Linked DNA regions of Homo sapiens: region 2 is linked to region 1. The links come from fine-mapping of genetic effects on gene expression. Tissue or cell type: whole blood. Region 1 holds a variant in brackets; the other region holds the start of a gene. All regions are shown on one strand. Distances are between the middles of the regions.

Region 1 (11,236 bases):
TGCCAGCCGTGTGGCCCAGACCCCATTCTCCAGGCCTGTGCTCAGAATGCCCTTCCCCCTCAACCCCTCCCTGTGCACCACGTGTGCCGCAGCCAGCTGTTCTGTGGGCAGACCCTTCCGTGGGCTGACAGGTGGTGATTACTGTTGCCAGCCCCACATTAGGAGAGAATTCAATGGGAGAGAGCCCCTGCCCGCCCCGGTCTCCCTATAATAGCGCCTTTCTGAGGTGCTTCACTGTCTTTCTTTCCCCATCCTCATCAACCTACGTCTGGAGCAGCTCTGCCTGAGGAGAAAAGAAAAGAAGATAAAGGGAGGCTCACAGGGCCCTGACTGAGCCACCCCACCTGGGGCGGGAAGGAGGGCTGTGCTTTGGGGAGAAGGCTGTGCCCCCTTCCCGCACTTGGCTAGAGCAAATAACCAAGAGGACCCCCAGGCATGCCTGAGGTGGACTCCTCATGAAAGCAGTGGATCCTGCCCATCAGCCAGCCTTGCCCCTGCGAGCTGAGCATGCAGCAGTGAGGGTGAGGCTGGGGTGGGGGCCTGGTGCAGAAATCAGCAGATTCCTGGAGACTGGAGTCCAAAGCCTGGAGCCTTCCTCCTCCTCTCCCTTCTCCCTTCCCTCTTCCCCACATTACGCTCTGCAATCCAACGCCAGAGGCCAGGGTATGGGCCAGAGAGGGTTAAGTTTCCAGAAGTCCTGACGGGCTTCAGCCAGGTTCAGGGCTGGAGTGGGTAGGTGAGGGTGATGAGAGTGGAGAAAAGGAAAGCAAGAATAGGCTGCAGACCGTGTAAGGCCAACATCTGGGACACGGTCACTGCCCCTCCTCCCTGCACAAACCGCAGACGCCGTGGCAGCAGGAAAATCAGAGCGGTCCAGACCAAGAATGATTGTGCAACCTGGCCCTGCAGGAGCACAACGCTGGAGGTGGGAGTGGAGGTCTGGGGTGCGGGGCAGAGTCCACTTTAGAGGGGAGACTTCAGTTCTTACTAAAAACACAGGCATTCAGGGCTCTGGTTTCCACACTAGAATGCAATGCAACTAACATGCATTTTGTAGTTCAAAATCCTCTGAGAATCGGAACTGGAATCTCTGCCCTGGGCCCCAGTGTCTCACAGCCAGAGGCACGGTGCCACTGAGGTTCTAGGATGGCTGCTGTGGATTGGCTGCTGTGGATGGCGGTGGGTGTGGAAGGAGGCCTTTCGTCCAGCCTCCTAAAGTGGCGGGATTCTGCCACCTCCCCCAGGCGCCTCACAGTAAACTCTTCCTCAGCAAAGGGAGCCCCGCCCAAGTCTTTAATATGGCTCAAGGAGTGGGGATGGGTTGGGAGGGAGAAACTGGATGGTCAGGGGGAAGTTTGATCTGAGGGCTACCCCAAACAAACACAGGAGAGGAGCAGTGGATTTTCCTTTTAATGCAAAATGTTGCAATACAAAACAATGTGGAGAAAGTCCTGTTCCTCAGGACACTGAAGGGAGGAGTGAGGAAGAGAGGACAGAGCTGGACGTCTCCTCCTATTTCTCCCTCCCCAAGTCACTCTGAGGGGAAGAACACTGCTGCCTGCTCCCTGGGCCTGCCCGCATACAAGGTTAGAGCCCTGGGTCTGGGGCATCCTTAGCCTGAAATTTGTTGACATGGGGCAGGAGAGCAGGAGGGAACATTGAGGGTTTTGACTCTTCGGGCTCTAAAAGGATTACTCAGGATCTGGAGTTCCGTATGAAACAAAGGAGCTGAAAGAATTTGATTGCCATTGGCTAAAAATATAGAGGATTTGAGCCACAACTGGCCCACATTTGAAGAATGAGGAACAAGAAATTTAGTGGGGATATAATATAAATGTATGGGAGTGAGAAAGATGCAAAAAACAAGGCTAGCTCCTCAAACCTCCTCCTCTTTCTTCCTCATCTCCAGCTTATAGACAATCTGGTAGCCATCATCCCAGGCATAGAGCTGGCGTTCTCGGGGGTTATAGCGGAGGCTGGCATGGGCACCATATCTGCGGGGAAAATAAGGGAGTGCTGCCCGTTCAGGGGTCAGGGTGCCGCTGGCATCAAAGGAGCACTGGATGCGGGCCCGACTGGCAGGACGGGTGTTATAGACGACATAGAGGGTCCCACAGATGACAAAGGCAGCCTCAGCATTCTCTCTGGGACATGGTGTGTCCCACTGCTGCTCTGTGTCCAGTGTCTGTGGATCTAACTTGGCCAGACACAAGTGCCTGTCATCCTCCCGGGTGGCATAGACAGCCCAAAGACCTTCCTCATCAGCTGCCAGGTCGATGTAGGTGTCTGCTGTCAAGCCGTAGGGGGGGATCAGCCCCTCTGCTGGGAATACTGAGCTGTCCACCACTGTTCGGTTTGCCAGGTGGAATTTGATTAGCTGCAAAGTGTTCTCCATCTCACCACCTCCACCAGGTCTTCCAGGAGGCCTCCGAGCAAAATAAAGAAAGCCACCATATACCAGCTGCCCTGTGCCTACCCAGGGGAAGGGCACCCGGACTCGGGAAGCTTTCCGGGCAGCCATGGCAAGGGTGAAGTCACGCAGCCTTGGGAAGACAAAGGCTGTGTCATTCTGTGTCCCATCTAACACGTAGATCTTCTCTGTTTGCCCCAGTGGATCCTTGGTCCATAGACCAGCTGGGCCACCAAATCGCTTCAGAATCTTCATTGATCTCACTTGAGAGATTGTGTAGCCACAGTCTGATGAGAAAAGCACAGGAAAAGGAAATAGAGGCAAGAATTAGATGCCTCCAGCAGGAACTCCCCCAGGGTGGGTGATCTGGAGAATAGTGAGCATTTGCCCAGTGGTTGCCTCCAATCTTAGGGAGAATTGAGAAAGAGCGGGTACCACAGCGGCCTGGATCCCCAGAACCTCTCCTTAATAGACCTGGCATTACAGAGGTTTCCCTAAAACAGATTCCAGAAGACAGAGCCACAATGGACTGGGACAAAGCGAAAAAAAGAGTAAGAAGCAAGGAAGGAAGAATATCGGTTCTGAGAAGAGTTAGGGGCCTGCTTTCAGATTATTTACCTGTCACCATATCGTACTTCTCATTCCTTCTTCCCTTGCCTTTGGTCCCAGGGCCTCCAGTCACCTTCTCATCAAACTCTACACAGGGCAGAGCTGGGTTCTGGGTCTCCAGATAGTCTACCTCCCGCTCCAGACGATCCACTCTCCCGGAGATGGTGTCGGCCTCAGTTCTGAGTGCCTCCCGCTCCTTCTCTGCCACCTCCAGCAGTGGCAGCATCTTGTTCTTGAAGTCCCGCAGCTCAGCAGCATGCCGACTACTCTGGTCCTGGCACTGGGCCAGCCGTTCCTGAAGGGATGGGGGATCAGGAGGGAGGCTGCAGGGTTACAACTCCCAGGCAGGGAGAGGCCCAACTCGGGAGTCAGGAATGGGAAAAAAAGAGCAAACTCAGCCAGGCTTCAATATCCCCTTCCACTCCTGCAGAAAAGGAAACCAGATGTGCAGAGGTGCTAAATGTGCAAAGAGCCTAGCTGAGATTCACCTAGGCCCCTACCCCGACTCCATGTCCTCCAGCCTGTGTTCTCTGTGAGCAGTGCCACTGAGCCATCTGAGCCTCTAGGCAGGTCTAAGCGCATGAAGGTGTGAAGAGGTCTCTGCTCCCTTAGCAATTATCCTCTCGGACACTAAAATGCTACGGATCTCAACCTGTTAAAAAGACAGGAAGTTATAGATTCCCCGGGAACCTCCAACTTCAACAGAATCATCACCTTCTCTGGAGATGCAGCCCCACAATTTTGGCTCTCGTTTCCACTCTGCCCCCTTATTCTATCTAATCCCAGAGGTAAAACGCAAAAGTCGATTTGCTTTGGAATTGTTCTATGTGGGGTAAGAGGAGGGCTTGTCATTCCGAAGGTCCTCTTATTAAGAGAGAATTTTCTGTAGACTCTAACAGAGCCCTTTCTTGTTATCCCCAGATCCCTAACAAACTGGTTGAACCAATAGCCCTGGAATCCTTCTAGGCGGGGCTAGAAGAGAAAGGGGTCCCTCACCTCTAAAGCAGCTAGTCGGCGTTCCATGTACTCCACAAGGTGGTGCTGCTGTCCTTGGAGGGGTCCCGACCATGACAAAAGGAACAAGATGAGGAGAGGGGTGCTGGGCCCCATGGCAGCCTGGAGAGTGGTGCCAGAGTAGAAGGAACGTACAGTCAGCCTCTTCCCCTCAAGCCCGAGGGTTAGCTTTGGAGGCGGGGTGGGGGCGGTGCCTTCTCTCCTGATCTCTGGGTCTCTCTCACTACTCTGGAATGCTTTCAGTTCTCTTTACAACCCCCACCCCCTCCTTTCCGCCAGGATTGATCAAACACAGATGGCCCCATTGCACAGCAGCCAGAAGCCTTAACCACCTCCCGCCTAGGCTGTAGGGTCCTCTGGAGGGGAAAGAGATGGAAACCCGAAAGCAGAGGCCTTCTAGGCAGTCAAGCAGGGAAGCTAGCTGCAGAAAGCAGAGACCCCAGAGAAAACTCAGCAAACGCCATTCCTGTTTTAGGAAAGTTTCACCAGTGCTGACTTAAGAAACTGACATTTTTCATTAATCTTTCCCTTTCCCTGCAATAGAGTGGGTTTTCAGCCTTGTTCAGTAGAAGCTGGGAGCTGGGGAGGTGAGGCTTGAAGGGAGGAAGCAGGAAAACAATGGCCCAAGTGGTCAAGCCCAACTTATTCTAAAGCTCATTGGCGCCACCTTGTGCTAAGCAGCTGGTGTCATCTCTCATGATAATACAGAAACTAAGGCTTAGACTTCACCCCATGAGGAAAATTTTCCACAAAAGCCAAATATATTGAATTTACAGGGGTTTTCACCACTGAAATGCATATTTCCCCCAAGACTATCCAATTACTACTTTGGGGGCTATGCAAATATCTGATTTAGCCCAAGGAAGAAAATATAACTGAGATTAAAAAAAAAAAAAAAACAGGTCACTGAGAAGTTAGTAAATTAACTCGATCGTCTGGAAGTTAAGGCTGACAGCAGCGCTGTTTTACATGGCTTTCCTTTGCTTGAAAGAGGCCAGATATAGTCTCTCACCAAAACTGAGGAGTGTTCAGTGAGTTCACACTAATTTACTATACATTCATGTATTGCGGGGGGGCGGAATCTGATATATATATATATGTTGTTGCAGTCTAGATCAATGTATTCTGACTTCCTTACCACTGGGAGAAAAGACTATTGGTTATTTCTCTTGGTTGTGGTCCAAAAGGGTATTTCTGAGTGTTTCTCATTTCTATATCCCAACTAAGGCTGCAGGAGCCCAAAATGAATTAATGGCCACCATAAGGTAGACTTGGGCCATAAGGTAGACACACGGGCCGAAAAAAAAAATCAAATAGAGCATTTACTCAGAGACCTGCAGTCATTAATCGAAACAAACCCCTATTTCTTTATCGGGAGAAATTCTATTCACTTTAGAATCAACAGAATCTGATGAGAGGTTCCTTCTGTAAAAAGGACCATGACTCTAACAGTACAGTTTGAAAGGAGGGGAAAAATAGCAGCTTCCTGTGGTTACTCATCTTTTCATTCTGCTACTGCTATCTGGCAAAACATATGAGGAAACAAAGCTTAATTAGCCGGTCTCAGAAGTCTTCTACCTCTTTCAAAGGGTCAGATCCAGATGATGTGAAGTAAGGACCCTGGACACTGCATTCTTGGGAAGTATTCCCTGCCAAACCCTATTCATTTCCAGTATGGAGATTTGTGTGAAGAATGAAATTGTCTCTAGTACTCTACTGATGTTCAAATACAATATGCTTAGCCACTTTCAAAGATGTCATTTATTGATCCCCTTTATATCCTATAACAGAAGTCAAAAACAGCCACATAAGTCAGAAAATTTACCCATTTTATTGATGCATTGCAATTGCTCTACATTTTACCATATTATGTAGAAAATACTGAAAATACAAGCTACTTTGTAAAACCAAAGACAAACATTGAATCCAAAGATAAACTATGTTTTACACAATGGACCCTTTTCCCATAGTTAGTATTAAATTTTAAATATCTATTTCTTTTGTTAAAATGATTATTTTACATACTCCCTAAGTACATCTGCATTACAAACATAGCTCAGTAATTCTCAGAAACTATCTGTTTCTAGAGGCTTGTTGTAAAAGAAAGCGCACAACCAAAAAAAGGGAGAAAGCAAAAAAAGTTTAAATCGCACACAATAACTAGCATATCAAATACATTTAATAAAGTAGGAATTCCATTGCAATATCAAGGATTCAAAGCAGAAATACTAACATTACATATAATGTACATATAATGTACTGCTACATGTAGTGAGATTATTTTTCAAGCTGAATTGAAACCACACATTATATAAAGTTTAGCAACAAACAACCATGTAGACATGCTGCACCATCTATCAGTTAAAAAAAAAAAAAATCAAAATAGGAAGCAGGCTCGGGCCACTCCTGTCACTGAGAGGCAATTTCATTTCCTATCCTAAAACAAACCATCTCAACTAGTGAATTTTTGCATAATAATGCTGAACAAAACACACATTACTGTGCTTGCCTGGCTAAGGGCAGTCAAGCTTAGCCCCTCTAGTGGAGGACAATGGATGAGCAATCACAAAAGCAGGCTCAGAATGGCCAGAACTGTTTGAAATGGAGTTCTTATTCCTGGGGTTGGTATTTCAGCTGAGCACTGAAAATAATATCACCTCCTGGGAGCTATTAAAAACTCTGGAGTGACCAAGTGTCCCTATGAGCCCAGAGTGGCTACACTGAACCCTTCTCCGCTTCTTCTCTCACCCGGAAAGGAAGAAGTTGGAAATGCCAAGTTCTGAGAGAGGACTTAAAGCCTTAAGCTGGTTTGAGGTCAGGTCACTGTGACCCAGGCCAGCTGCTCACTAAATTCACCAGGCTTCCTCCCTTCCTGTCAGGGCC[A/C]ACAGGGCTAACCCCAGGGACAGAATCTAAAGCCACAGTGAGCACATACATACACATTCAGCAGACACAGGTGGATTTTTATGCTGGAAAATCGGAAATGCCAGTTTGCAGACTAAGACTGAAAAATCTCTAGTTTTTAAAGCCACACACTGCTAGGCAAGTGACTAAGGTAACAATACAAGCTCTTGGTATTATCCTTTTCTGTGGAGTTTAGACTCCTATCTTAAGTGGTATCTGCTTATTGGACTGGGGTGCAGGAATGGGATTTGGTTTTCTTTCCTGCATCTCATTTCTTACAAAAACAACAAATCTTGTCCCTTACAGAAAAAAGACAAGGAACAAAAAATTTGTCCTTTAGAAACTAGACCTGTGTTCCAACAAGAAAATCAGAATGTGCTTGGCAAAAAGGAGACACAAAGATCACACATGTTGACCAGAAAACTGTATGACACTAGTGACAGAAATTATACAAACTGCTTGGCTATCTTGACCAATATAGTGCTGAAAACACAACTCAATATAATGATTTTAAAAAATAAAGAAAACACAACATGTTCCTGGTAGGCTGTACGGACTACCTGCCCCATCTTGGAAGCCCTTACTCCTTACAATGAAGAAACTCCAAATACTTTGACAGCTCCTCGGTGTTCAACCTGGTACAGAGCTGGCTGACCAGGCTCCATGAAATCTCCCATCTCCATCCTGCACCTCCTTGACACCATCTCTATCTACACAGAACCAGTCCTAAAATTATATCTCAAATATATCATTTTCAATTCAGATGGAACACACCTGTATTTTAGGATTAATCTTCTTTCCCCAAATCCTTTATGGGCAGGAATGTCCCCATCCCCAGTACCTTCTACTTGACCCAGATCCATGCAGGAGCTGAGAGTACAAGGACAATTTCACAGCTTGAAGGGCCCCAAGACTATACAAGCTGTTAAAAAAGAAACCTCAAAAGCCTCAATGACTCAACAGGCTTTGGTTCCTTCTCTATATTCTTCACCAGCTAAGAAACCTTTCTGTGAGTTCCTTGTCACCAGCGGCACCACAAAACTTCTCCTCATAGTATGGGGACATGGTAAGCAATACAACAGGCTCTTTGGTATAAACACATCTGTTAACATGTTTTTTTCAACAAGCAAATATTTTACTAGGAATGTCAACTATGTGCAGGAAGGACTGCCACATGGGAAAAGGAAAAAAAAATTCATTCTAAAAGTGATTGCACATACTTTAAAAGAATGCATATTTAATATTGGCTTGACTCCTCTCACCTGCTTCCTGAATTCTCACAGAAGCAAGGTAGCAACGCACAGTGAGAGAGCCACATGGGGAAAATGCTTCTGTGAGAACTCAGCCGAGAATCCAAAATGGAAAGGGGTAGAGGTGGTGGTAAAGGAGAAAAGCTGCTGTTTTTATTTTTCAATGTTGGCAGGGAAACTGAGAACAATGCATTACACAATACAGCTACTAATCCTGTTCTGATAAATCCCGGTGAACAACTTAGGGTCCACGGGGGCTTGCTGGTCCATCCTAAGGCAAGCTCACTGTAAACTCTATTAACCACTACATTATCATATAAGGCACTACAATAAGGGAAGGAGGAAGAAAGGGAAGGAAGAGACACACACTGAAAAACTCCTCACCAGACACACCTGTGCAAAACAATTCCAAGGGTCTCCTCTCCTTGCAGGCAATGCCCCTGCTCATTCAGCACTACAGTAATATGCTCTAATATAATTGCAATTAGTTCACATACATTCCAACAAGTATCAGTTCATTTTGGTTTAAATACAATGGAGACATCAATCCATCTCCGGGATAACACTGGAGGATCACATACACACTAAGTACACAATTCAAGTGTAATCACTACACATTTGATTACAAATAACATTTTGGGTTAGCAGGAAAAATTGCTTGTTATATTTTTCTAATCAATATGTACATATTTAATTATGTAAAATATTAAAACACCACCATTACAAAACTTCTAAAATATTTTTAAATTCAGTAATAAATTTTTAAAATATTTTTTGCAATTCCTACATGCACTTATTATATAAGTCTTAATAAGAGAGCATTCAATTTGCTGCTGGCATACAAAGGAAGCTACTTTGAAGTATAAAAGCTATACACAAGAAATGTTCTTATCTGGTTTCAGGTTTTTTTAGCTTTCTCCCCAAACAAATCACATAAAACAGAAGGGAGAGATGAGCAAAACAGAGGTGTATTACTGAAAATTCATACTAATCTTTAGGCAAAGCTCATCAATGCCAGTATCTCATAATAGACAGAGATTTTGCATATAATAAAACCACCACCACCATGTAATAATAACCACCTTAATGGCTTTTTCGATAAAAAAATTTAAGCTGAATCAGAGAGAGAAAGACTTTTAAAAAATAATTTAAAAAAGAATTCATGGTGCTTCATTTAAAAAGAATACTTGGTGTTTTCACGCAGATATGGATTCTCTCACATTAAGTTACCAGCAAATGGTGAGCTGCCTTTTAAACACTACTTTATAACAAACACAGGAGCAATTGAGAGAATCTCAATAGTAACACAGAGTAATACGTAACCAGTTTTGCAAAAATAACAATTGCCCATTAAGTATAATATGACATTAAAACAAAACTGAAACTCTGTAAGTTTAAATGTCCAATAAACAAAAGGGAGATTGTGTAAGCCGCTTTTAAAATAAAATAGGCAAGTCTGAGTTTATAAACAAACAAAAAGTAATTTTTCTTTTTTTGTCATCAGATTTCAACTCCTTCTATCAGCATTTTTCCTGACCAGCAATCACAATAACACAAAATGAAATAAAGAGGGGCTTCACTTGTTTTTAAAAGCATTTATAGAAATCAAGTCAGAGAGACAAAATATTTTTCAGAGGGTAACTTCAGAACAATCTCTCTTCCTTGGTAACTGCAGAAGATGGGCATCTGAACTCTTCCAAGTACCAAAATTACTGTCACAAAAATAATGAATTTAAAAATAGGGCAAACTTTGGGAAGACTACAACAATGCAGTCAACACTGAGACAGGTTCCCCCAGAGAAAAACCTTCTGCTTCAGTGGGCCCCTGCAGAACAAGTTGCTGGCTAAGAAATTTCAAGAGGGTAAAGGAGGATCTCTCCATAGCCCAATATTAAGAACGCAGGGCCAGGAGAAGGTAGCCATGATTCCTCCTCCCTCATGCTCACCAACTATAAGTAGGAATACTGGCTGATCTTGGTAGGACTCAGCGGGTATCCAGTGTAAATTGTTGAGCCTCGGGAAGACCCAATGTAGGATTGGGTGGCAAACTGGTGTTGGTACTGAGCAGGGGCCACGCTGGCAGAAGTGAGGAGGCTGGGCCCAACACTGACAGGGACCTGGTGCACCAAAGTGCTAGGGTGAGTGGTATAGGCTGCAGCATGCCTTGAGGAACCCTGTGGGGAGAAAAGATGAGCAATGGAGCTGGTTGAGCCCAGTGCAGCAGCAGAAGTCGGGGCAGCATACGTATACAGATGAGCCTGGCTTGGCAGGTGAGCAGGGGCCGGGGCAAGGTGTGGGTGCCCTGTCGAGTGTAGCGGGCTGCCATGCTGGAAGGTGTAGGGGGCTTGGGAGAGAGGGGCCACAAACGCCTGCTGCCTGCGGGGGGCTGGGTTGCTGCTTCTCTCCTGTGAGGTTGGAGCCGCCGATGACTGCTGGTTCTGGAAGAAAGAAGGAAGAAGTGAGGAATCCTGAGGTCACTCCAGCTCAGGGCACCAAAGGCCAAGTTAAGAGCTCAGGTTCTGACTTGTACTGTTTTCGAATGGGTATAGCACATAATCTCCCACACTGGCATTGAATGCTGTCAGAAATCAGCCACCCCTCCTTCTGCCTCTTAGCAAGATAGATCCTAATCTGGCTCAGGTAACAGCATTTTGCTTGTAAGTATGACAGGAAGAGGGAGAATCAAGAGATCATAGGGTTCCCCACTCCTGCAAGTTAATAACTGGTGACTCAACTCACCCTATTCTGGCGTCAGTAAATTTGAATTTTTCCTAGCCTTTATTTCTTACCATTGCTTTCTTTTGTTTTCGTCCTCTAAGTTCTTCATACCCCTCTTGAAATGTGGAAACTAAAATACATGCACTAACTCAAACTTACATTTTCACTTGCATGTGCTCTCTCTCACATACCCTCATACTGACACTTTCTCACTACTGGTGGACATCATACAAGCACTCGAATTTTAGCTTCTAAGAGTGAACACAAATAGAATAAAGTAATGAGAGAAGCAGAAGGGTAGGTTGGGGCTGGGGGTGTTCGGAGAGTGGGGAAG
Region 2 (10,299 bases), 49 kb after region 1:
GTTATCTTTGCCTCTTTCATACAATTTAACAGCTGGTTAGCCAAATGACCTAAAAACTGTACTATATATTGATTTCTTGCTCCAGCACTTATCCTCAGATGACATGAACACAGGTATACATATTGTCTATCACATACTCTGATACATATTTTTTACAGATGATAAGAGTACATCTTCTGTAAAAACAAAGTGAGACAAGTTTGGGAAGAAAATTCTTCCCAACAGAACACCTAAATCTCTCTCTACTCTCCTAAGTTTTCTCCACCCCTACTGCACAATCCCATACTTAAACAGCTTAACTGGTTTCCTCCAAATTGTACTCTCAACTTCCCCCCTTTATTTGAGACTCTGTCACCCAGACCGGAGTGCAGTACACGATCATGGTTCGTTCACTGCAGCCTGGACCTCCAGGGCTCAATCCACCCTCCTACCTCAGCCTCCCGAGTAACTGGGACTACCAGTACATGCCACCACGCCCAGCTAATTTTTTTGTATTTTTTGTAGAGACAGGGTTTCACCATGTTGCTCAGGCTGGTCTCAGACTCCTAAAGTGATCCACCTACCTCAGCCTCCAAAAGTGCTGGGATTACAGGTGTGAGCCACGATGCTGGCCTCAAGCCCCTTTTCTAAGCTCCCCTCTCCCAATTCATTATTCACCTCTCAACTGAAGCTTTTAAAAATGCACATCTGAAAAAAAAAAAGTGTACCTATCCCCCACTTAAAACCTTAGGACAAACACCAAAATTCCTAATTTGGATTACCAGGCCTTGCAAGATCTGGACCACGATTACTTGCACAGCCTTGTTTCATCTGCGCTTTTCCCCAGGCACTTTCTCTTCCAATACTACCAAGTCTCTCTGGGTTCCCACAATAGACCTTGCCTTCTCTGGCCCTAGTTCCTTCAACATGTTTCCTCTCTGAACTTCATTTTCCCCCTTAGGCTTTTCTTTTCCTAACTTTTACTTACCCTTCTAGTCTCTGCTTAAAGCTCACTTCTTCAGTGTGGCAGAGGCTGTTGCTTTGTATCAAAATCAATAGTTCACTTAGATTTATTTGGAATGACTACGGCAACAGAACAAAAGAAAAGTAAGTGCTTTGTGTTTAGTAAAAAGGTACTACATTTTAGTACCTGCACATAACAGTCTATAGGTCTATAAAGCTTAGAATTAAGAAAACTATACCTTGAGGAGTTTCCAGGATAAGAAAAAGTTAAAATTAACAAAGCAGAGATCAATATGAAACATAAACAATATGCCAGCAAAGGCTGAAGGAAAACGGGACTTAAGTAAGGCAACAGCAGTTTGGAGAATGGAAGATGGAGGAGGCTCTTTCAGAAGAATGAGATGACTTTTGCTATGCTAGTATGCCAAAGGATGTGGAAAAATAAAAAACCGTGTAGAGTAAGGAGATATATTTAACTGGAGCAGAAGACACTAGCAAAAAAGTACTGGAACTCTTACAGATAAAAGGGACCTTAAAGATTCTAAAACCCCCTAATTCCGAGATGAGAAAAAGGCGATCCAGGCCAGGCATGGTGGCTCACGCCTGTAATCTCAGCACTTTGGGAGGCCGAGGCAGGTGGATCACTTGAGGTCAGGAGTCTGAGACCAGCCTGGCCAACATGGCAAAACCCTATCTCTACTAAAAATACAAATATTAGCCAGGCATGGTGGTGCGTGCCTGTAGTGCCTGTAGTCCTAGCTACTTAGGAGGCAGAGGTATGAGAATCACTTGAACCCACCACTGCACTCCAGCCTGAACCCACCACGGCACTCCGACCTGGGCGACAGGGCGAGATCTTGTCTCAAATAAAAAAAAAAAAAAAAAAAAACAGATCCAAAAAGGCCAAACGAGTTTTACCCAGCGCTAATGAGTAGCAATGCTGGCAAAGGTCTTCTCATTCTTTTTCCTTAAGCACTCTGGGAAAGCACTGTACCAGGTACCCTTAAAGAATCTAAAAGAAATGTAAGTTTCCTTACCTTCAAAAAACTTAAAATGTTGCTGAAATGATATAACACATGAAAAAGAAAGAAAAATATGAAAACAGGATGTAAATTTTTCAAGTGCCAAATTATGCACTACAGGAATATATTAGGCATTTAGGAGCTGGGTTCCAACAACTAAAGGGAAGATCAGGAACAAAAACAAAAGGAACCAAAAGACAAACCAGTGATTGTTGAAGTGGTACTTAAAGGAAAATAATCTTGATGACTTGTGTTCAGAATGGCACAAAGGGAGAGGAAGGGAAGATAACGGGAGGAATAATAGTAAATTTTTTTTAAAAAGACCTAAAAAATACAGACTGCTGTTATACACTCATGCAGGTGGCAGATCAAGCAGCTCATGTTTGCAAAATTACTTCAAATTACAAGACCAGTTACAATATATAACTAACAAGCTGCACAAGTTCCAAGTGTAAGAACTTTACAAGGCCGGTATGACTCACTGATTTGTACCAACAAATCATTGATGGAGCTGTGCTTATAAAAACAAAAGCACAGAATGAAAGAAGTTTATTTTCCAAAGAATTGTGAACTTTGAGATTATCTCTTCTTTTTTTTTCTTTTAGAAGGAAGTTCTGGTTTGGTTTGAAGTCTCAAGTTACCAACGAACTTGCTCAAAAAACCACAAAACTACAGTGTCGAGAGATAAACTATTCATGAAGGTATCACCAGCAAAAGTTCTACTTGCCAACCAGAGCCAGTATATTTATAAGATCTCATTCACCATTTTATTCTAAGATACTTTACTGGCTTGGCTGCCTCCAGTTCCAACCGCAAGTACTTTACTAAAATATCTTTCAAGCCAGGAACAGTATCTTAAAGTCAATGCCACCCTTCATCATAACAGTATTATAACACAGAACCCTGAGATAATTACATGTAAAGATCCAAAATCACCAGCTGAATAATGAAAATTAGGTCAAATGATTTGTTAGATTTTAAAATGTTTTATAGAAAGCTTTAGGCTTCCATATGAAAAAAGCTAGTAATAGTTTGCATTCTCTATAATCTTACAAAAAAAAAAAAAAAACCCACAGACCAGAGATCAAAAATAGCTTTACACAAACAAAAGGAAAATTGTAGGTTTGCTGAGGGCATCAGCCACTTAATTTAACCCTATTTCATCAAGAGCGGGAAGCCACACTGCTGTTTTCACCAGTTACTAAGAAACAAGATAAAGGACAGATTGGGACAGAGAGTCTATAGCTGAAAGTATTATGTTGATGCAATTACTGAGAATTCCCAAAGTGTCACTAATAGACAAGAAAGAGCATCTAGGACTGCCTCTAAATGAGTCTACCTACAACAGAATCAGTGATTAAGTAAAGAAAAGACTTACTGGAGCTTGGGGGTTTTCCCCCCCTCTTCCCTACCCGCATCCTCCCATCCTGAACCCCCCTCCCCAAGTAGGAAAGAAAGCTCGCCCAGCATAAACACAGGCCATTGCTCACAGCTCGTCACCACAACAAACTGGAGGTTAGACCAACGCTCCTGGAGACGGAACTCCACGTCTTGGTTGCTAAGCACAAAAAGGGGACTCTTCCCCACAGACCTGTGAACAGTGTGGGCCTTACCAGAATTTTGGTTGTTTCTCCACCTTCCCCCTCCCTTTTGTTTTTTTAACGAAAGCTTTGAAAGTGGTGGCAGCAAAAGTTTCCCTTTGGGCCAGACCTCTAGATCTCCCTTGTACAGATATACATTAGGTGGGCTGGTCTCACGTAGTCTCCACCGTCATTACGAATTACAAGCCTAACGACTACAGAACATCAGCGGAGACGACAGAAAAGCTTCCACACCCACCCCACTGTCGTCCTCTCCAGGCACGGCTTCCTGGTCCCAAACAGCACAAATAACCCAAAACCATGGTGATAAGCGGAGCTGTGAAGTACACACGCACAAGCCACACACTGGGAACCTGCCACGACAGCCGGGGAAAAAACCGGCCGAGTGAGGAGACGCAAGGCGGTCCCCTGTCACTTAAGGACAACACGCCCAGGCGAGAAGTGGCAGGAGGCAGGGGGAGTTGCCCCGAAAACCAGCCCGGAGCCTCCCCACCTTCCTGGGAAGGCAATCCCCTCAGCGGCAGTGAGCGGCCGGGCCGCAAGACGCGGCGCCCGGTCCCAGGCAGGGGCCCTTTGAGGAAGGCGCCCCCGGCAGGCTGGGCGCTCCAGGAGAGCCGGCGGCCGGCCCGGCCCCGCCTCAGGGAGCTGAGGGGAAGTCGCTCCCCGCCGAGGACCCCTCCTGCCCGTCCCCACTCACCGCCGGTGTGTCTGGTTCTCAGCCGCGAGCTGGGGCTGCCGTGAGGAGGCGGCGGAGGAGACGAGATCTGGGGCCCCGCAGCCGGGTCATCATACCCCCCGCGCGAGCCGGCCCGGGCCCCGGCCCCCGCCCCCCGGAGCCGTCCCCGCGCCCGTCCCGCAGGGGGAGCCTCCTCAGCCTCCCTCCCGCTCCACCACCCAGCCCCTTCCCGCCGCCGCCGCCGCCGCCTCAGCCCCGCGCGCTCCCGCCTCGGCCTCCTGCTGCCGTCCGGGGCTACCGCCGGGCCCCTTGCTCCGCAGCCGCCGTTGTCGCCAGACCCGACGAACGGAATGCCGAGCGGCCGTCCCTCAACCCGGCCGGCCCCGCCTCGCCGGAACTATTCACCCGCCCCGCGCCATGACACCTACTGAGGCGGAAGTGCAGCTGAATGGACTCTCTAGGACGATCGCATAGTACTGATTGCAGTAGGAGTCGGTGGGCCTCGAGTAGGTGGGCCTCCGTAGGGAGCCAGCGTGGATCGAGTGCGGGGCCTGGACTTCCCGCCCCCTCCGCACTGCAGACTCTGCGGTGATTTAAAGGTGCCTGGCGGTGGTACGGGATCCAACTGTAAAATGTCATCCCAGCTAGTGTGACATCACCACAGTTTAGTGTGACACCCCCAGAGCTTGGGCAGTGTACGGGACGACAGTGCCTAGCAGAGGAGCTTCACTGCCGGTGAGGGATTACCTCAGGTTAGGCTTTAATGTTTCGTTGCCGTCTAGAGACGTTCTAGCAATGTGACATCTGTGTACCATATCTGGAAGTCTCCCTGTACGTCAAGAGCCCCTTAGGGGAGTCTCCCATTGCCGCCGTGGGAACCTGTGTTTACATTACGAGGAGAGAGAATAGCTGTACTCTGAACTCAAACGCTCAAAACATGCAGTGAGCGAATGCTAGCATAATTTTCTTGCCTCTACCAGAAGGAAGGCTGGGTATTTAGGAAACAGAACGCGTTGGGCACAACATTCTGAGAAAATGGACACAGAAAATTAGGTTATCCTAATAGAAAAGCAGTTGCATCTCCCAAAGTCAAGAGATTCTGTAGGACTTCCGATGTATCTCCTGCTGTGTAAAATATTCAGGTTCCTGAAGTGGGGGACATTTTTAGGGCAACTGTAATTTCTTCATTTTTTCCATCCCACAAGTGCTGGAGGCAGCAGTGATCTGAGCTCTAGAAAGTGACTGTCCGTCACCATCGGTATTTGCATATACTCTGTGAGGAGAAGGGCAGTTGTGGCTAAGACAAAATTCTACTATCAAGTTTTGTTTCTCAAATCTCACTCATTAACATCTTTGATTTCCTTGGATCCCCATAACACACACAGAAAACTATGATTTGTGTAAAATGCGCTGAAGTACCTTTTAAGGGAAGTCATTTGGCTTTCTCTCTGGCTTAACAACACGGGGAGCAGTTCCATTTTATCTGGAACAGGGAAGTTTATTTCCCTAGAGAACTAGGGTTACCAAAAATGTTCGATCCCACAAGGCAGTTTTGTTTGCATATTTTCACAGAAACTTCCTTCTACTACTTAAAGTCCTCACATTGGGCTGACCTGGGAAACATGAAGATAAAAAGAGTGGGTAAACATGCCTGCTTGATGAGCCAGAAAAAAAGGCAGAAACCTGTGGTCTGGGTAGAACAGATCCTGCTCAGAATGTAAGCTTCAAACATGTTTATCATGCCTTGGTTCAACCTAACTCTCTGACATGTTCCTAAACTCCTGCTCTCTCAAGTTATGTCCCTTTCCTCTTTTCAAATATCTCTCAGAATTCACCCTTTCGGGAACCTTTGCTGATTGACTCCTATTTTATTTGAATTCTGCATCATCATCTGATTACTTAAATTAACCTGTACCTTCTTTATTTATACTTGTTAACTTCTATTTTCATTGCTCTTAGGTCCTCAGTCTTTCTCACTATACGGAGAGCTTCTTAAAGTCTGTATTTTCTCCTCTTTAGTATCATTCACTCATTCATCCAGCAAACTGCTTGTGTGCCTGCTCTGTGCTATACACTCTTCTAGACACTGGGTCAGGTATGAATGAGACAGGTGAATAAAGCATGGTCTTTTCCCTCAGGGACCTTACAGTCTAATGAGGAAAAAACGTGTGCAGACATATATAAGATAAGTGAGAGAGTCGGAGAAGAACATCAGAAGTGATATTTGAGCATAGTAAGGTCAAAGAAGTTTCAAAGTTTAGTCATTTGTCCATTCAGTAACTATTTATAGAGCATCTTCTGTGTGCTAGGCACTATATAAGAAATTAAGGGGCTGGGTGTGGTGGCTCATGCCTGTAATCCCAGCACTTCGGGAGGCTGAGGCAGGTGAATCACCTGAGGTCAGGAGTTCGAGACCAGCCTGGCCAACATGGTGAAACCCCGTCTCTACTAAAAATACAAACATTAGCCAAGTGTAGTGGCGCATGCCTGTAATCCCAGCTACCCTGGAGGCTTAAGCAGAAGAACCGCTGGAACCCAGGAGAAGAAGGCTACCATGAGCCGAGATTGCACCATTGCACTCCAGCCTGGGCGACAGTGAGACTCTGTCTCAAAAAAAAAAAAAAGAAAGAAAGAAAGAAATAAAAAAAAAAGAAATTAAGGATACACAGAAGAAAAGGCATGGTCTGTGCCCTGAAGGAGCTTACAGTTAAGCAGAGAAGTTGCACGATTTGGAAGTAGTAAGGTAAATTGAGTCAGATTTTGAAAGGCAATGTAGAGCTGTTAGAAGTTTATTCGCACAGGTAGCCAGGCACAGTGGCTCATGCCTGTAATCCCAGCACTTTGGGAAGCCAAGGTGGCAGATCACTGGAGGTCAGGAGTTCAAGACCAGCCTGGCCAACACAGTGAAACCCCATCTCTACTACAAATACAAAAATTAGCCAGATATGGTGGCATATGCTTGTAATCCCAGCTACTCGGGAGGCTGAGGCAGGAGAATCGCTTGAATCCGGGAGGCAGAGGTTGCAGTGAGCCGAGATCGTGCCACTGCAGTCTAGGCTGGGCAAACAGAGCCAGACTCTGTCTCAAAAAAGAAGTTTATTCAGACAGGTAATGTGAGAGAGAACTAGTGATGGTGAAGGAAGAGGGCTAGCTGGAGTGGGTAAAGACTGGAGAAAGGGATCCTAATCAGAAAACTATGATGAGGGTTTGATTACACAGGAAAGAAGGCGAGAAGGGGCAGATATGTGAAATACATCCTCCTAAACCAAGTCAGAGCAACTGGAGAGGGAGGTGGAGCAGTTAGCAATCGGAAGCATTCAAGTTTCATTCAGGGTATGACATCCTTCTAGGGCCTACAGCCTAGATTCAGTGTTGCAGGCAAGAAGTCATTTGCCCAAGAGCGGCAGTGCTTAAGGCCAAATAGGAGAAGCTGATGAGAAGGCTGTGTCTTGAGAGAAGCTGAACCAAAAAGCTAGGCAAACTATTCAAACAAATAGTGAATCCTAGGGGCTAGGAAAAAAAAGAGAATTTAAATAGAAGCCAACAGGTTGTGAAACTGGGAAAACCAGATTAGAGTGAAGGTCTGCAGTAAACGATAAAAAGCAGAAAAGTCCCTTGAGCCAACAGGAGGAGAACCTCAATGATTTTTTAAAAATCCAGACCCCAGAATACTTTTTATTTGGAAATAATGTTAAACATACAGATATGTTGCAAGAGTGACAAAAAGAGGACCCAGATTATTAACATCTTGCCCCTTTTGCTTTATCATTTGCAGTTATAGATAGATAGAGTTATATTACACACATACATGCCTTTTTTTTTTTTTTTTTTTTTTTTTTTTTTAGACAGAGTCTCACTCTGTCACCTAGGCTGGAGTGCAGTGGCATGATCTCGGCTCACTGCAACCTCCACCTCCTGGGTTTAAGCGATTCTCCTGTCTCAGCCTCCCGAGTAGCTGGGATTACAGGTGCCCGCTGTCACACCTGACTAATTTTTTTGTATTTTAGTAGAGACGGGGTTTCACCGTGTTACCCAGGCTGGTCTTGAACTCCTGAACTCAGGCAATCCACCCACCTCAGCCTCCCAAAGTGCTAAGATTATAGGTGTGAGCCACCGTGCCCAGCCCACGTACATATTTTTTTTTCCAAGCAGTTAAAAGTAAATCGCATGCATCATCCTCCTTTACCACATAATACTTGAATATCCTAATAAGTACATTCTCTTATGTAAACAAAATACATACAATTAACAACTCCAGGAAATTTAACATTGCTGTAATACTTTACCATCCATGTTCCAAATGTTGTCAGTTGATCAAATAACATCATTCTTAGCATTTTTTTTATTTTCCAGCACAAGATCCAGTTTAGGATCATATATTACATTTAATTGTCATGTCTCTTTAGTGTTCTTTAATCTGGCACAGTTCCTCAGCTTTTCTTTGTCTTTAATATTTTTGAAGAATACAGGACTTTTTCTGGTAAGGGGTAATAAAATGTTCTTCATGGCTGGGCGTGGTGGCTCACGCCTGTAATCCCAGCACTTTGGGAGGCCAAGGTGGGTAGATTGCAAGGTCAGGAGCTCAAGACCAGCCTGGCCAAGATGGTGAAACCCCATCTCTACTAAAAATACAAAAATTAGCCAGGCGCGGTGGCAGGTGCCTGTAATCCCAGCTACTTGGGAGGCTGAGGCAGAGAATTGCTTGAACCCGGGAGGCGGAGGTTTCAGTGAGCCAAGATCATGCCACTGCACTCCAGCCTGGGCAACAGAGCAAGACTCTGTCCCCCCGACCAAAAAAAAAAGATCTGAGCATTAGGCCCACAGTGATTTATTACTGAATGCTTGTATGTGAATATCAGCCCTTCAGCCTCCCTGCTCATCCCTTTCCTCAGGTTGCAAGCCTTAGGTATTACCAAGATTTTTCTCTTAAGACTCCTTTTGAGTATCCTTAGCAGAGAAAGCTTGCATAGGGAAATTTGGCAGACACTGTCCGTTGCCTATTCAAATGAATAGTTAGGTTTAGCTAACTTGTGTAGCAAACAATCCCCATACCTCAGGGGCTTATGGAAAGGTCACTGCTAGCTGGTCCATGATGGCATGTGCTTATAGTCCCAGCTTCTCAGGAGGCTGAGGCAGGAGGATTGCTTGAGCCCAGGAGTTCAAATCCAGCCTGGGCAACATATTGAGACCCCCATCTCTAAGGTAGATAGATTAGATACATGGATGGATGGATGGATGGATAGATAGATAGATAGATAGATAGATAGATAGATAGATAGATAGATATTACTGATATTGGTGAGAGCCACTACTCCCATCTCTGAGAGAGGGAGAGAGAGAGAGAGAGAGAGAGAGAGAGATAGTATTTGATCTTCGAGAGAGCGGTTTTAGTGGCATAGTTTGGGCAGAAGCTGTGTGGTTCCTATATAGGATTACTCATAGTATGAGTGGTGACTGACAATCTGGGAAGAATGGCCTGGTCCAGCTGAATGGTAGAATCTATTCTGGTCAATACCCATATTCAGCTCTCAATATCCAAGGAATCTGCTTGGGTCCACATCAGCTACATCTGAGAAGTTATGAAATGAATCATTTTGACTACATTCTCTATCACTTCTCTTCTCACAGGTATAAACCAGGAAAAGTTGTTCTGGCCCCTCATCTGGTTTCATGAAGGACAATATCTAGCATGAGAGTGACAGGGGTTAGAATAATGGACATTTTGGGGACTGGGTCCTAGCAGAAATGATGGAATAATGGAACAGGAGTTTGGATGAATGGGCATATTATGGGATTAAAGAAGATTTGAATACAAGCTTTCCTAATAAATGAAAGGGGAGGTGAAACTAGAGCATGCTGATGGCTGCACAGCATTGTGAATGCACTAAATGCACTAACTGTCCACTTTAAAATGTTTAGTAATATGTCGATTTTACCTAAATAAAAAAAAGGAAGCAACATAGTGAGTCATCGTCTCTATAACAATTTTATTCAGATGTCTTGGAGGATAAACCTTTCTTTTTTTAATTAGCCAGGCGTGGTGGCACACACCTGTAGT

The links. PIP is the estimated chance that this variant, and not a neighbour inherited with it, causes the effect.
Region 2: HIPK1 starts here. The variant in region 1 is fine-mapped to the expression of HIPK1 in whole blood (INTERVAL, PIP above 0.99).

What each region holds. Positions count from the first base shown.
Region 1 is chr1:113,972,410-113,983,645 of GRCh38, reverse strand. It overlaps HIPK1 (homeodomain interacting protein kinase 1), which reads right to left. Exons shown (of 16, transcript NM_198268.3): 16 at 5,777-10,622. The coding sequence ends at 10,134. OLFML3 (olfactomedin like 3) reads right to left here and starts at 4,172. Exons shown (of 3, transcript NM_020190.5): 1 at 4,016-4,172; 2 at 3,029-3,314; 3 at 1,393-2,697. The coding sequence starts at 4,129. The coding sequence ends at 1,877. RefSeq lists enhancers at 1-339, 1,595-2,427, 4,095-4,928, 6,234-6,811. The variant A/C (reference allele first, on the strand shown) is at 6,917.
Region 2 is chr1:113,923,903-113,934,201 of GRCh38, reverse strand. HIPK1 (homeodomain interacting protein kinase 1) reads right to left here and starts at 4,878. Exons shown (of 16, transcript NM_198268.3): 1 at 4,670-4,878. HIPK1-AS1 (HIPK1 antisense RNA 1) reads left to right here and starts at 4,677. Exons shown (of 3, transcript NR_110726.1): 1 at 4,677-4,840; 2 at 5,814-5,958; 3 at 9,870-10,201. RefSeq lists silencers at 4,148-4,457, 4,478-4,527 and an enhancer at 4,648-4,967.